Linked DNA regions of Homo sapiens: region 2 is linked to region 1. A link means that fine-mapping ties the variant in region 1 to the expression of a gene that starts in the linked region. Tissue or cell type: esophagus muscle. Region 1 holds a variant in brackets; the other region holds the start of a gene. All regions are shown on one strand. Distances are between the middles of the regions.

Region 1 (8,172 bases):
TGACCTCATGTGATCCACCCGCCTCGGCTCCACAAAGTGCTAGGATTATAGGCGTGAGCTACCGTGCCTGACCTTGTAATACATTTTAATGTTAAGTCTCCACCGTCTTCATCCTACAGCAAACATGAGTCCTATGTTACATGCATGTTCGTTCAATACACATGTGTCAAGACTGCCTTCATGAATATTCATAGCTCTCCCTGTAACATGTTGAATATGTATGTTTAGCCAACCCCTTCAGCATACAGCTCCTGCCCCAACCTCTCCTCCTTAGAAGTGCCTATCTCCGGATCACGAGATCAGGAGATCGAGACCATCCTGCCTAACACAGTGAAACCCCGTCTCTACTAAAAATACAAAAAAAATTAGCCGGGCGTGGTGGCGGGCGCCTGCAGTCCCAGCTACTCGGGAGGCTGAGGCAGGAGAATGGCGTGAACCTGGGAGGTGGAGCTTGCAGTGAGCCGAGATCGTGCCACTGCACTCCAGCCTGGGCAAGAGAGCGAGACTCCATCTCGAAAAAAAAAAGAAGTGCCTGTCTCTGGTCTCTGCCAGAGGCTATGCTTTTGAAAGTGGCGGATGGCCACCCTGCAGTCTGTAACCCTTTATGAAAAATAAAGTTGCCGCTGTGGCTCACACCTGTAATCCCAGCACTTTGGGAGGACAAGGCAGGCGGATCACTTGAAGTCAGGATTTCAAGATGAACCTGGCTACATGGTGAAACCCCATCTCCACAAAAAATACAAAATGAGCCGAGTGTGGTGGCACGCACCTGTAATCCCAGCTACTCAGGAGGCTGAGGCAGGAGAATCGCTTGAAGCTGGGAGGCAGAAGTTGCAGTGAGCTGAGATTTTGCCACTGCACTCCAGCTTGGGCAACAGAGTGAGACTTTGTTTCACAGAAAAAAAAAAAAAAAGAAAGTAAGTTGGGGGATGGGGGAGAGCTTCAGGAAGAATAGCTAATGGATGCTGAGCTTAATACCTAGGTGATGGGTTGATCTCTGCAACAAACCACCAAGGCACATGTTTATCTATGTAACAAACTTGCACATCCTACGTATGGGCCCCTGAACTCAAAACACAAGTTGAAGGAAAAAAAAAAAAGAAAGTCTTGTCGGGCATAGTGGCTCACACCTTAATCCCAGCACTTTGGAAGGCCGAGGAGGGAGGATGGCTTGAGACCAGGAGTTCAAGACCAGCCTGGGCAACATAGCGAGACCCTGTCTCTACAAAAAAAATTTTAAAAATTGGCCAGGTGTGGTGTTGCACACCCGTAGTCCCAGCTACTTGGGAGGCTGAGGCAGGAGGATGGCTTGAGCCCAGGAGGTTGAGGGTGCAGTGAGCCGTGATTGCACCACTGCACTCCAGCCTGAATGACAGAGCAAGACCCCATCTCAAAGAAAAAAGAAAGAAAGAAAAAATGAAAGGAAAGAAGAAAGAAAAAAGTCTCTTTTCCAAATTTGTGAATTGTGTGATTTTTCAGTTAACCAGCTCTCAGGTCTGGGGCCAGTCACGCTGCTGAGTCCTGGCCACCAGAGTGGTGAGGTGTTGGGAGGCAGAGGTGGTGCTTGTCTCTGTCCAGGGGTGGCCTGGCTGAGGTTCGGCTGGTCCACGAGCATCAGTTTCCCCACCTCCATGGTGGTGGAATGTGGAGAGCCATAGGAGCCTGGTGCATGCACCCCTCTGTGCACTGTCCGAGGGTCCCCTCCCCACTTAGAACCATGGAATCAGGCCACAGTCCGCCTCTTTAATCTTGGACTGGAGGATATACAGATCGAGAGGGTGGGAGAGTGGCCCCAGGCAAGAGGCCTGCGGAGGGATAGAGGGGCCGGTTCAGGACCACCAGGGGCTCTGGGAAAGGGGGTTAGGGATGAGGCTCAGCCTCTCATCTGCCCAGCTGGTCCCCGCCACCTCTTCCACTCTCAGCTGGACTCCCCTGCCAGGGGTCCAGATCCTGCCAGAGTAGTTGGTCCCCCAGCCATGTCCGGCCTGGACACAGGACTCATGGTGGGGCCAGACTTCAGCTCTGGGCAGAGCAGTGTCTTAGTAGCCTGCGGCCTCCCCACTCTTCCTCAGGTCCGAGACGGCGTACACACAGGCCCCCTCCTGGGACACAGCCTGGACCACGTTCAGGAAGAAGGGCCTCTGGGTCTGGTTCTGGCCACGGTCTTGGAGTCCCCTCTGCACCTCCTGGAGAGGAGAGAAAGCAGGTTCACAGGGGAGGGCAGCTCAGCCCATCTCCAGGAGGGAGAGGCCTCTGCAAGAAATGAGAAAAATGATCAAAAGGCAAGACGGAGAGGAAGAGGGCCTGAAGACACAGGAAGAGGGGAGGACCAGATGGGAGCATGGAAGAGATCCAAAGGCCCATAGAGGACAAGCTCAGCCTCCAGGGACTATGTACGAAGGACACCACCCAGGCCCGAAGACCTCCAAATGCAAGTTCATGTCTGTTCTGGATCCAAGGACACCAGGGCCTTGAGGTGCAAATCTGAGTTCAGGGGGCCTTCGATGGAGGATGTGGCTTCTCAAGATTTAGACACTGAGGCCAGACACAGTGGTTCACACCTGTAATGCCAGCAATTTGGGAGGCTGAGGAAGGAGGATCACTTGAGGCCAGGAGTTTGAGACCAGCCTGGGCAATGCAGCAAGATCCTGTTTCTAAAAAATAAAAAATAAGAAATAAAAAAAAGCCAGGCGTGGTGGCACATACCTACAGTCTTAGCCACTTGGGAGCCAAGGTGGCAGGATCACTTGAGGCCAGGAGTTTGAGAACAGCCAGGGCAACAAAGCAAGACACCGTCTCTAAAAGAAAATCAAAAATTGGGCTGGGCGTGGTGGCTCACACCTGTAATCCCAGCACTTTGGGAGGCCGGCGCAGGAGGATCTTTTGAGCTCAGGAGTTCAAGACCAGCCTGGGCAATGTAGCAAGATCACGTCTTTATTAAAAAATAAAAGAAAAGAAAAAAGAAAAAATTAGTCGGATGTGGTGGCCCTGTGCTTATAGTCCCAGCTACTCAGGAGGCTGAAGCAGGAGGATCCCTTGAGGCTAGGAGTTTGAGGCTGCAGTGAGCTTTGATCATGACACTGCACTCCAGCCTGGGCAAAACAGCAAGACTGAAACCGCCTTTGCAAAATTATGACTGAGACAGGGAAAGAGATCTAACTTAATCGACTCCATCTTGCTTCTAACCTCCCAGTTGTCCTTGCTCATTCCTGGGTGTAGGCTGAACTAACTTTGAGAGAAACTTAGTTTATAGTTTAAAACAAAGACGGTAACAGCCCTTTCCCAAAGCAGACTTCCTTCTTGCCTGGGCACCAGACTGCCTTCGTAGGACTCACATTAGCCACAAGATTAGAAATTATGGTTTAGGAGTCACGCAGCTGAAGGCTAAAGATTCTGACCCTCCCTAAACTGCTCTTAAGATCAGTGCTTGAGAAATTTTGCAGACCCTGCACTTGATGGATCAGCTGGCACCATCCAGATCGATTAACTGGCTCATCTGACCTTGTGGCCCCCACCCAGGAACGGACTCAGCTCAAGAAGAAAGCTTCAACTCCCTATGATTCTATGATTTCCAGGGGTTTTTTGTGTGTGTCTGTTTCTGAGATGGAGTCCCGCT[C/G]TGTCACCCATGCTGGCGTGCAATGGCACGACCTTGGCTCACTGCAACTTCCCCTCCCAGGTTCAAGTGATTCTCTTGCCTCAGCCTCCCCAGTAGCTGGGATTACAGATGCCTGCCACTTTGCCCAGCTAATTTTTGTAATTTTAGTAGAGACAGGTTTTCGCCATGTTGGCCAGGCTGGTCTCCTGACCTCAGGTGAACCACCCACCTCAGCCTCCCAAAGTGCTGGGATTGTAGGCGGGAGCCACCGCGCGCAGCCAACTCCCTATGATTTCATCCCTGACCTATCAGCACTCCTGGCTCATTGGCTTCCCCCAACCCGCCAAGTTGTCCTTAAAAACACTGCTCCCTAGCCAGGCGCGGTGGTCATGCCTGTAATCCCAGCACTTTGGGAGGCCAAGGTGGGCAGATCACCTGAGGTCAGGAGTTTGAGACCAGCCTGGCCAACATGGAGAAACGCTGTTTCTGCTAAAAATACAAAAATTAGCCAGGCTTGGTGGCACACACTTGTAATCCCAGCTACTTGGGAGGCTGAGACATGAGAATTGCTTGAACCCAGGAGGTGGAGGTTGCAATAAGCTGAGATCGCGCCACTGCACTCCAGCCTGGGTGACAGAGTGAAACTTTGTCTCAACAACAACAAGCCAAAAAAACAAAACAAAACAAAACAAAAAAAACTAATGGCCCGAGAACCTCACCCTGCAGGGCCTGAGATTCCGGAGACATCTAGATGCATCGGGTGATGCCACATGGCCTGAGCTGCTGACAGGGCAAATGAGGTCTTTGGAGCCCTGCACGTTTGGCTATGAGTTCCCCATGCCTGACCTACTAATTGCCCACTGTCCTTAGACTTGAAGGCCAAGATCCTTTACTGCTGAAGCCAAAGTTGGACCTTCAGTGCTCAGAGACTCCATTCCTCAGAGTCCACTGGCCAAACTCCAAGACTCTGAGGATCAAAGACTCTCCTCGCCCTAGTCCCTGGGCCTTAGCTGTGAAGGTCCTTGGAGGCTTAAAGTCTCCAACCCAGAGTTTAGGATTTACTCCATGGAAAGCCCTAGACCTGAATAGCTGACATTCCAACTCCCCAAGGGAGCTGAGAACCTTAGGTTTGTGGGTCACTGGATTCCATTAATCCCAGTCCCCAGACTGTCATCTCCCAAATTCTCAGCATTTCACGTCCCCAGGGTGAAAGGTCCTGAGAATTGATGTTCACAAAGACAAAGGTCCTTCAGTCAAGAGTCAAGGGAGGGGCCGGGCGCGGTGGCTCACGCCTATAATCCCAGCACTTTGGGAGGCCAAGGCGGGCGGATCACAAGGTCAGGAGATCGAGACCATCCTGGCTAACACGGTGAAACCCTGTCTCTACTAAAAATACAAAAAATTAGCCGAGCGTGGTGGTGGGTGCCTGTAGTCCCAGCTACTTGGGAGGATGAGGCGGGAGGATGAGGCAGGGGAATGGCGTGAACTCGGGAGGCAGAGCTTGCAGTGAGCCAAGATCGTGCCACTGCACGCCAGCCTGGGCAACAGAGCGAGACTCCGTCTCAAAAAAAAGAAAAAAAAAGAGTCAAGGGAGGGCCAGGCACAGTGGCTCATGCCTATAAGCCCAGCACTTTGGGAGGCCAAGGTGGACAGATCACTTGAGATTGGGAGCTCAAGACCAGCCTGGCCAACATGGGGAAACCCCATCTTTACTAAAAATACAAAAATTAGCCAGGTGTGGTGGCGCACATGTGTAGTCCCAGCTACTCAGAGGCTGAGGCAGGAGAATTGCTTGAACCTGGGAAGCGGAGGTTGTGGTGAGGCAAGATCATGCCACTGCACTCCAGCCTGAGTGACAGAGTGAGACTGTCTAAAAAAATAAAAATAAAAAAAGAGTCAAGGGAGGAGGGCTCCAAAGGATGTGCCCTGGATCTTGAAATCCTCCATATCTAAGATCCCTGGAACCCGAGAGCCCTGAGAGGGTCTTCCTGTCATGCGAAGGACCCTACATGCGGAGGGAGGCCTGCAAACTCCAAGAGTTTGAGCCTAACAGGCTGAGGTCCTTAGTCTCAAGGTCTGAAAACTAAGGCTCTTGGGACTACACTCTGTTCCTGGACTAAGGCCATGGTTCTCAGGTTCTAAGGGCTTTGGAAGGTGGACTTGAGACCGAAGAAGTCTCATAACAGGAGAGGCAGCTTTGACGATCTGGAACCTCAGCTGCTATCAATCTTTTTTTTTTTTTTTTTTTTTTTTTGAGATGGAGTTTTGTTCTTGTCACCCAGGCTGGAGTGCAATGTCACGATCTTGGCTCACTGCAACCTCTACCTCCTGGGTTCAAGTGTTTCTCCTGCTTCAGCCTCCCGAGTAGCTGGGATTACAGGTGTGTGCCACCACGCCTGGCTAATTTTTGTATTTTTAGTTGAGGCAGGGTTTTACCATGTTGGCCAGGCTGGCCTGGAAGTCCTGACCTCAGGTGATCCACCCGCCTCGGCCTCCCAAAGTGCTGGGATTACAGGCATGAGCCACCATGCCCGGCCACTATCAATCTTTTAAATAGGTCCTAACAAAGGGCATCCATCAACCCAAAGATGCTCCAAGGAAGCTGAGTCTCTGTCTAAGGATAGAGGGGGAGTCAGCCAGAAGAATTCAGCCCCTGGAGCTGCACCATGGGCTTCTGTGGGGAATCAAAAAAAATGTTTGTAGGCTGGGCATGGTGGCTCACGCCTATAATCCCAGCATTTTGGGAGGCCAAGGCGGGAAGATTGCTTGAGCTCAGGAGTTCAAGACCAGCCTAGGCAACATGGTGAGAGACCCTGTTTCTACGAAAAACAAAAAAATAAAAACTATCCAGGTGTGGTGGCACACACCTGTAGTCCTAGTTCCTTGGGAGCCTGAGGAGGAAGGATCACTTGAGCCCAGGATGTCAAGGCTGTAGTGAGCTGTGATCGCAACACTGCACTCCAGCCTGGGCAACAGAGTGAGATGCTGTCTCAAAAAAAAAAAAAATTATATATATAGTAAAAATTACCACCAATGCCCTAGTGCCCCAGAAGAAAATCACTTTACAGACTGTCACAGGAAAAACAACCTCTTTCACAAATAAAGTTGCAAATATTAGTTACAAATCACACAAGGAAAAAGTCACCATGAGGGAGAGTCTGAGAGGCCCCAGCCAGGAAAACTCACTTCTGAAAAATGGCATCAACCACAGACCAGAGACCAAGGTGCTGAGATCCTCAGCCTGGGAGCAGCATAGACAATACCCTGCTCTCTGTCTTGGAGGCCACAGAACTGGCCTGGAGGCCACTGACAGCCTCACCCATCAAGGTCCCCAACTCCTATGGCCCCCAAAGTTGAAGTGTACCTGGCCTAAGAATCTCAGTGACTGAGTTCCTCCCAGGTGGCTTTGAGCAGCACGGATTTGGGGAGTGGGCTCTGCCCTAGGCATCCAGCTCGGACCTCAGCCTCACCTGGCTGAAGTTGGGCTCGTACTCCACACAGCCCTTGCTGTTGACATGCAGGATGGGGGCTGCAATGGCCGCTCTCAGGTCAAAGCCAAGCCACAGCTTGCTCATGATGGCCTGGGGGAGAGATGAGGGTTTCAGGGAGAAAGGGGGCACCCTGCTACCCTACATCAGCCCTCACATCCCCACTCCAGAGACAGTCAGACAGTATGCTGCCCAGAGAGGAGACACTCGAGCCAGGAGCCCCAGACTCACCTGGGCCACAGCAGAGATGATGAGCTCCCCGCCAGCCCCGCCAATCACTAGCTTCGACCCCTGGGCTTTGTTGATCAAGATGGAGGGCACCATGGAGGATGGGGAACGCTCGCCTGGAACTGGGGGCCAGCACCTTCCGGGAGCTCCACCCACCCTGTCTCCACTCACTGCTGAGCAAACAGCGTCTTGGCAAGTGCAGTGACCCATCCAGGGGTTAGCATGCAACCCCAGCCCAGCCCCCTCCCTCCTCTCCCCTGGTGGGGGGCCCTTGTGGACCCCGGGTGGGAAGCTTTGTTCTCACCAGGTGAGGGGGTGGTGCCGGAACCCCGGGGGCATCGCTCGCATAAGTCCAGGAGCTCGTTGTTGAGGATGATGCCTGTCCGTGGTGAATACACCATCGCTCCAAAGCTGCAGCCGTGGAGGCAGAAGAGCCTGGGCTAGGACCCGGGGCTCCCACCAGACACCACTTACCCTGCACGCTTTGCAGGACCCCCTCGTTTTACAGCTGCCCCGAAGCATGCTGAAGCCGCTATTCTCTCCCTGGCACCACCCAGGAGGGGTCCCCAAAGACCCACCTGTGCCCCCACATCAGGGCACCCTTCTGAGTGAGGCTACCCATTCCCAGGTAAATCTTGGGTCGGGGCCACCCCAGCAGCAGCCTTTCCAGCCAGAGATGTCAGGGGTGGGGGCCTCTTTTGAAATAGAGGAGGAGAAAAAGGGCAAAAGCAAGGTGCTGCCCCGTGGGGACAAGTGAGGGGACATGGGGCTGGGGGTGTGCAGGTCTAGGAGAGGAGGAGTGAAGCCATCCGCCTTCCCCCAGGCCCTACGCACGGTGTGTTGATGGTGCTGGTGGCAGCC
Region 2 (8,172 bases), 40 kb before region 1:
AAGTCCCGCCCCCTGCCCAACATGCCAAAGCTGGTCATCCCCTCCGCCGCCACCAAGTTCCCCCCTGAGATCACCGTCACGCCACCCACCCCAACCCTGCTCTCCCCCAAAGGCAGCATCTCGGAGGAGACCAAGCAGAAGCTGAAGGTGACCTCAGGGGCTGGGCTGGAGCCATGTGTGGGTGGGAGGCATAGGTTACAAAGGGGGCCTAGGATGGGGGTGGGGGTGGCAGGAGGGCCTGGGGTGTGGGTGAGGATGGCATAGGGGCCTGGGGCAGGGGTGAGGGTGGGAGGGGGGCCTGGGGCAGGGGTGAAGGTGGCAGAGGGGCTTGGGGCAGAGCCCAGCCATCCTTGACCAGTGCCCCGCCCGGCCCTCTCCGCAGTCAGCCATCCTTTCTGCCCAGTCTGCTGCCAACGTGAGGAAGGAGAGCCTATGCCAGCCAGCCCTGGAGGTCCTGGAGACATCCAGCCAGGAGTCCTCGCTGGAGAGCGAGACAGACGAGGACGACGACTACATGGACATTTGAGGGGCCACTGCAGCCCCACCGCCACGCCCCAGGGGACCAGCCAGGCCTGGAATGCCCCCTGGGCAGGACCCTGGGCAGGACCAGAGGCCCACATGGATGCCACTCCCCACACAGCCCCCAGGCCTGCCCAGCCCACCTCCTCATGGCATCCTCCCTGTACCCAGGTCAGGCTGTCCACACCACATGGGAGCCCAGAGGAGGAGGGGCCCGCCTTAGCCATGTGAAGGTGGATTGGTCGCCATCTGCACGCCAGGCGGCATCCTTTTCTATGAAGTGTTGACTTTGTAAATCTGCCCACACCCAGCTGGCCATATCCACCCCTCGACGCCGGGATGAGCCGGCTCTGCCTGTGTCACAGTGGAGGGGTCCTTTAGGGCCAGGCTCACCCCTCACCCTTTTTTTGGTTGCTTTTCTAATAAAGATGGAACAGTTGTCTTTGCCTCTTTGCTCACCTCTAGGGGGCAATCTGGCAGAGTCTCTGGCGGAGAGTTGCTGTCCCCAGGGATTCTGGGCCTTTACTGCCATAGTCCATAGGGCAGGGCCTAGCCCCCCTCCTTCTCCAGCATCTCAGGGACCAGCCAGGCAACCAAAGCAGCGGCTGGGGGTGCCCAGTGGGGTAAGGAGAGAGCCGACTCGGGGCTGGGCCAGGCAGACGCCTCTAGTGCAGCTGGAGCCAGGCTTCAAAGGGGAGTTAGGTGCATCCCCAGAACGCACCTGGGTGCCAGTGGGTGGGAGGCTGTACGGTGGGAGGGCAGGCAGGGCTGGGGCAGCTGAGAGGCTGGGAGGAGGGGGCTGTCAGGGAGGGAAAGGGGGGATGGGGCCGGCAGGGAGGGTACTTAACTCCCATCACAGTCGCCCTAATGGGGCCAGTCACAGAATAGCTGGGCTCAGTGCAAGACATAAATATGAAGCTCCTTGATCAAAAAGGATTAAGGATTTTTTTTTTTTTTTTTTTTTTTTTTTGATATGGAGTCTCACTCTGTCTCCCAGGCTGGAATGCAGTGGCACGATCTGCAGTGGCACGATCTCAGCTCACTGCAACCCCCGCCTTCTGGATTCAAGCGATTCTCTTGCCTCAGCCTCCCGAGTAGCTGAGATCACAGGCACACGCCAACACGCCCAGCTAATTTTTGTATTTTTAGTATAGACGGAGTTTCACCATGTTGGCCAGGCTGGTTTCAAACTCCTGACCTCAAGTGATCCACCCACCTTGGCCTCCCAAAGTGCTGGGATTACAGGCCTGAGCCACCACCATGTCTGACCAAAAATGATTAAGGATTTTAAGGCAGGCCCCACAGAGCATTAAGCCCCTAGAGCTGGCACCCTTCACAACTCTCTTCCCCTCCCAGCACCGCAGGGGCCCTCCTGGCCCTGGGACCTCCCATGGAGCAGGCTCTCTGTCCAGGATGGAGATGGGGACCCTCCTCACTGCCCTGTGCCCCTCATGGGCTGGACATGCCCACCACCCAGGAGGAAAGGCGTAAAGGGCTGGGCACCGCCCTTTTGGAACCAGAGGCTTGGTGGCCCCAGATGGGTCTGGCTGAACCCGCCTTTCGGGGGGCTGAGATAAGCCAGCCCCAGTTACTCAGCTGACGCCCCCTCCCTGCAGGGCCTGGGGTATGGAGCTTCCCAGACTGCACACCTAGCCCCTACCGCACTTCCATTGTCTCCAGACACGCGCAGCAACGGTGCCCAGGCCAAAAACAGGAAGCAGCAGCTCTCCCTCCTCCAGTTCCCGGGAACTGTCTCAGCCGATCCCCCAGCACCCCTCCCTGGAGCCTCACCTATAGGAGGACGGACACCTCGGACCCTCCCCTGCACCCAGTGCTGTAGGGAGCAACTTCAGCCCTGGGCCTGGGATGAATGCCCTCGCCAGCCTGGGGCCAGGAGACAGGCTCTCCCTGGCTCAGCACCTGAGCGTCCACTTACAGGACACTCACCTGCAGAGGTGCCCTGAGCGCCATTGTGGGTTAAGGGACTTTCTCCCCTCTGGAGACAGTCCCTGAGAAGCTGAAGGTCTTGGGGGCCTCTCACCAAATGTCTTTGGGAGGTGGGAAAACATCAAATGCGGGTGTGGCTTCCCTGGAACAGCTCTGTGTGGGGACTCAGGAGCCAAGTCCCCCAGCACACGCCTCTAACACTTTCAGTAGGGGCCACCTCTCTGGAGCCACGGGTGGCTGCCAACACCCTGTGGTTCCCAGCAGGCACCACCCAGGCAAGAGAGAGAACAGGCCGGGGAACAATGGGCTGGCCTGGCCGCAAGCGCTGGGGCAGATCACAGACCGGATGGCCTAAGCTCATGCCCTGGGGCCACCTCTGACTCCCTGCAAGTGTGGCAAGGGTCCCTTTTGGACACCTTGAGAAGCTGCAGCTGGGAGAGGACCACCCGCCTGTCTGGATGTCCAGCCCAGGTGTCAGGGTCCAAATGACCAGTCCCAGGCCGCAGCCCTTACCACCCGCCCTGGCTGCAGGGGCTCCCAGAAGCCACCAAGGGCCTGGCTCGGCCTTGCCTATCCGCATCTGAGCTTCAGTTTCCTCATCTGCTCAAGAAGGGAGGTGAATACTGATTAAATTATGCAAACTCTTAGCGGCAGGATTAGGTGTGGCTGGGACAGCCAAGGCTCCCCAGGGTGGTGGCATCTCTGGAGCCCGGGGATGGGCCCTGTCTCCCTTCCGGGCCCCCCGCTGGGCTTGGGTACCTTCTCTCCCCTTCCTCCTTCCTCCCTCCAGAGGGGACCCCTGCAGAGCTGCCTCCGCCCCAGGGCTCAGCCTGTGTCTGACCCAAACAGCTCCTGCCTCCCCCTGAGGATGAGTTGGGTGCACCTCCTTCCTGCAGGAAGATGAGGGCTAGAGATGGAGGTCTATGTCAGGGCCACAGAGTCTGGAATCCTCCCTGGAGCTAAAACAGCCCTGCCTTATTCACCCTGCGCATCCCATCCTCTGCTTCAGCCCCGCCGGGCTCGCCCTGCATGCAAGGCGGGGCTGGGACCCAGGGTCTGAGCTTCGCCCTCTGGACATCCGGCTCATCGCCTGCCAAAGGTCCTGTGGCTGGAGGCTCCGGCCTCCTCACCCTCCCACAGGGTCCCAGGGCCGATCCAGGCCTGCGGGCCAGGAATGTGCTAACGGGGCAACTTGGGCCTTGCTGGTCCACGCAGGCACCTGTGGACTTTGAGAGGGGACTGGGTGGGGAGGGGCGGGGAGGGGCGGGGCGGGGCGGTGCCGCAGAGTGCAGGGCGGGCGGGGCCAGGCCAGCAGGGAGTGAGCTTGTCTGGCCGCCTCGCCTCGGAGCCACTGCACTGCTGGCTGCAGACACAGGCTGCACCATGAAGCCAGCCCTCCTGCCCTGGGCCCTGCTGCTGCTGGCGACAGCCCTCGGCCCGGGCCCCGGACCCACAGCAGGTATGCCTCCCTGCCCTTCTGTGTCCCCGTCTGTCTGTCCATCTGTCTGCAGCCAGGCCTGGGCTGACATCCCTCTGGGCTCAGCCTCTGTCCATCTGTCAGGCCATCTGTGGCTGTGCTAGGGGTGATGGGAAGAAATTCTGAGGGTCCATGTGGAGGGGCAGCCCATGGGGATGGGAGGTCTGAGCCGGGCCCACCCTAAACCTGCTGGTAGCTAGGAGGGAGGCGGGGGAGACCAGCAGAGGCCTCCGCCTGTGTCCCCAGCCCTGACAGGGCGGGATCACGGAGGGGGAGCCAGGATTGTGGGTCCTCATCAGGGTGGGGCTGAATCCAGGAAAGTCTAGGGAAAGCCCCGAACTCCAGAACCAGGACACTGGTCCCAGGCTGCCCCCCGTCCCCCACCCCATTTCCCATCGACCCTCTTGCCACTTATCTCACTTGCAAGCATCTCTCGGCCTCCTCCCCCGACCCCTGTGCGCCACCAAATCCTTGGCCAGTACATATTTATTGTTGCTTTTAAGTGCCAGGCACTGCACTTGGTGAAGTGGGGCCAGCGGGGTGGCTCAGGCCCAGGCCTGGCCCTCGACTGGCCTCTTTTGATGGGGGATGGGGAAGGGCCAGGGAAGTGCAATTCCAGCCTGGGTGCATGCACCTGCCCCAGTCCCTCCCTGCAACCCTTCCTTCATGCCAGCCCCTGGAAATATGGCCTTGCCCACCGGTCTTATGGCCCATAGGAGAAGTTTTGGGCCCGGCGCCCACAGCCCCTTGTGGTGTGCACCCCCACTTCCCTTTCCCCACTGCTGGGACCCCTGCTTGAAATGTCCCTCCTCTCCCCAGAAAGGAGGGGAGCGGCCCTGGCCTTCTGCCCTGAGCACGGAGCTCTCTTTGGGGTCTCAATTGCAGCCCCTGGGAGAGCGAGAAGTGTCACGTTCAGACCCTGCACCATTCCCTACCAGGCCTCAAATGAGACTCTTGGCAGCCATATCCCCCACCCCAGTCCAGGCAAGCAAGAGGGGTTCTTCTGCAGGCTTCAGGGCCCCCAGAAGGCGTGCTGACCACAGACACCCTGGGGAGCCAAGAGAGGTCGAGGGCTCCAGCTACCGTGGCCCACTGAGGACCCCTGCCTGTGGGATAGAGGACTTGGTGGCTGAAGGGCAGTCATGCCCAGGGGCTTCTCCTGACCCTGCAGGGCTGAGCGGATGCAGCTTTTTGCCTCTTCTCGCTGCATTCTAGCCCGTCAGTCAGGGCAACAGCCAGATGGTCTGTGCTAAGATTCATCCCATCCCCACGGGCCCTGTGGCTTTCTACTGTGTCCACCTGGTGGCCTGTGCAGTTCCTGGCCAGCGTTCTCCTGGGGATGCTGCTGTCTAATGGGCTGTGGGAGAAACAGAGACAGGCCCTGCACATGGGGCAGCCAGTCCAGTACCCGCCGGGCCAGGCCCTCAGCATCCTCTCCTCCAGATGCCCAAGAGAGCTGCTCCATGCGCTGTGGCGCCCTGGACGGGCCATGTTCCTGCCACCCGACGTGCTCTGGCCTTGGCACCTGCTGCTTGGATTTCCGGGACTTCTGCCTGGAGATATTGCCCTACTCAGGATCCATGATGGGCGGCAAGGACTTTGTGGTGCGGCACTTCAAGATGTCCAGCCCCACAGACGCCAGTGTGATCTGCAGGTTGGGAGGCCCAGGAGGCCGGGCACTGGGGCCCCACGCCCCCATCCCTGTGCATGCTGAGGGCTCAGACCCACTGACTGGCTGAGTGGAGCCCCTCGGACCCAGGACAGGCAGGAGGGCACAGGGACAGCTGGCTGGTTGGGTTCCCCAGGGAGGTTGGGGGCCCAGACCATCGAGAGGCTCAGCCTGCAATGACCCAGCCCCTCCCACCACCACCACGCCCACAGGTTTAAGGACAGCATCCAGACCCTCGGCCATGTGGACTCCTCCGGGCAAGTGCACTGTGTGTCACCTCTGCTCTATGAGAGCGGCCGCATCCCCTTCACTGTGTCACTGGACAACGGCCACTCCTTCCCTCGTGCGGGCACCTGGCTGGCTGGTGAGCCCTCCTCCCTGCCCACAGCCTGCCCCCACGGGGACTTTCCCCAGCGCTAATCTATGCACACCGAGACTTGGCCTGTCCGTGCCCTGCCTCTCTGGCTGAACCAGTCCCTTGGGAGGCCTGCCCGCCTGCGAGAGTTCCTTCAGCTCCTTTCCACTCCCTGGCATCCAGACCGCGGTCCCAGCCCAGAGTGAGTGGGAGCTGCAGGGGTCCCTAGAGAGGTGGGCCAGTGCCTATCCACTGAGCTCCGCCATGCCAGGGCAGGGGAGAAGCCAGGTCGAGGCTAGAGGCGTGGGCAGTGGAGGGAGGGCAGGCCCCTGCCTCTGCGGCCTCAGCGTCCTTTTCTGCTGTGCGGGCCAGAGAGACCATCACCCAGCTGCTGCCATGCATTGGCCCTGGAGGCTCCCACAGCCCTTGAAGCCTCAGGGCCTCCTCCCTGCTTCCCTGGGCCCAGGCCCTCACTCACCCCTCACCTCCCCTGCCCAGTGCACCCCAACAAAGTGTCAATGATGGAGAAGAGCGAGTTGGTGAACGAGACGCGTTGGCAATACTACGGCACCGCCAACACCTCAGGCAACCTCAGCCTGACCTGGCATGTCAAGTCGCTGCCCACGCAGACCATCACCATCGAACTGTGGGGCTACGAGGAGACAGGTGAGGCCAGCTGAGGGCTGGGGTGGCATCAGAGCTTTGGGCCCCCAGAGGGGGAGAAAGGGGGTCCCAGCTGTGTGGGAGGAGGAAGGGAGTTTCCAGGTGGGGTTGAGGAGGGAAGGGAATTCCAGGCAGAGATTGAGGATTCGGATGGAGGGAAGTGCAGGTCAGGGGGGTCAGGCAGGTGGGAGGGGGCAGCTCATGGGGCCTGGCTCCAGGGGAGGAGGCTCATGAGGAACCCCTGCACGGCTGGCATGGCCCTGGGCCCAGCTTCCAGCAGGGACAGGGATCCTGGAGTGTGGCAGGAGGTGATGGTCACCCAAGCCGGGGTCCCTGCTAGAACAGCCCCTCCTAAGGGGACCGCCTGGCGGTCCATCCACCCATCTGTCAGGCTGCTGTAGGTGGCAAGGCCTGGGGCCAGGCCTCGAAGGAACCCCAGGGCTAACCAGGCATCCTCTCCCTCAGGAATGCCCTACTCACAGGAGTGGACTGCAAAGTGGTCGTACCTGTACCCCCTGGCCACACACATCCCCAACTCCGGCTCTTTCACTTTCACCCCAAAACCTGCTCCTCCCAGCTACCAGAGATGGCGAGTGGGTGCACTTCGGATCATCGACAGCAAAAATTACGCAGGGCAGAAGTAAGAAGGCATGGATGTGCAGGTGATGGCTGGAGGGCCTCGCCGCCCGAGGCCCATCATGCTTGCCTGGGCAGCCCAGGCTGGGGGTGGGGAGAGTGGGGCGACCATGGGGTGGTGTGGGCTGGCCCAGCTCCAGCATCATCACCTCCACAGGGACGTGCAGGCGCTCTGGACCAACGACCACGCACTGGCCTGGCACCTGAGCGATGACTTCCGAGAGGACCCTGTGGCCTGGGCACGAACTCAGTGCCAGGCCTGGGAGGAGCTGGAGGATCAGCTGCCCAACTTCCTGGAGGAGCTGCCGGACTGCCCCTGCACCCTGACCCAGGCCCGGGCTGACTCCGGCCGCTTCTTCGTGAGCCTCCCATCAGGGCCCAGGAGAGGGGATGAGGGGTTAGCCTCCCCACTGAGGACAGCACCAGGGGAGGCAGACAGAGGTGTCCTGGAGGGTGGGGCTGGGGTCTCAGGACCCCTGCAGGGTTGGCCTCAGGGAGGGGATGACAGAACCCGAGGCCACTGGGTGACAGCCACCTGCTGCTCTGCAGACGGACTACGGCTGTGACATGGAGCAGGGCAGCGTGTGCACCTACCACCCCGGGGCCGTGCACTGTGTGCGTTCTGTGCAGGCCAGGTGAGCCCCCAGGCTGGGGCCGGTATGGGGATTGGGGTCAGGGGTGGGCTCCCAACAGTGGCCTGGCCCTGACTCACTGGCTCCTGCAGCCTCCGGTACGGCTCAGGTCAGCAGTGCTGCTACACAGCGGACGGGACGCAGCTCCTGACAGCTGACTCCAGCGGCGGCAGCACTCCCGACCGCGGCCATGACTGGGGCGCACCCCCGTTCCGCACGCCACCCCGAGTGCCCAGCATGTCCCACTGGCTCTACGATGTCCTCAGCTTCTATT

The links. PIP is the estimated chance that this variant, and not a neighbour inherited with it, causes the effect.
Region 2: it holds the start of SUSD2, and the variant in region 1 is fine-mapped to the expression of SUSD2 in esophagus muscle (GTEx, PIP 0.92).

The regions. Positions count from the first base shown.
Region 1 is chr22:24,217,931-24,226,102 of GRCh38, forward strand. GGT5 (gamma-glutamyltransferase 5) reads right to left here. Exons shown (of 12, transcript NM_004121.5): 8 at 8,146-8,172; 9 at 7,616-7,722; 10 at 7,315-7,481; 11 at 7,066-7,176; 12 at 1,730-2,186. The coding sequence ends at 2,040. Among named protein-coding and RNA genes, the nearest start is that of GGT5, 23 kb to the right of the region's middle. The variant C/G (reference allele first, on the strand shown) is at 3,617.
Region 2 is chr22:24,177,671-24,185,842 of GRCh38, forward strand. SUSD2 (sushi domain containing 2) reads left to right here and starts at 3,817. Exons shown (of 15, transcript NM_019601.4): 1 at 3,817-3,925; 2 at 5,387-5,597; 3 at 5,825-5,976; 4 at 6,466-6,633; 5 at 7,096-7,270; 6 at 7,424-7,625; 7 at 7,816-7,901; 8 at 7,991-8,172. The coding sequence starts at 3,850. CABIN1 (calcineurin binding protein 1) reads left to right here. Exons shown (of 37, transcript NM_012295.4): 36 at 1-147; 37 at 383-958. The coding sequence ends at 526. RefSeq lists enhancers at 5,787-5,866, 5,937-6,046.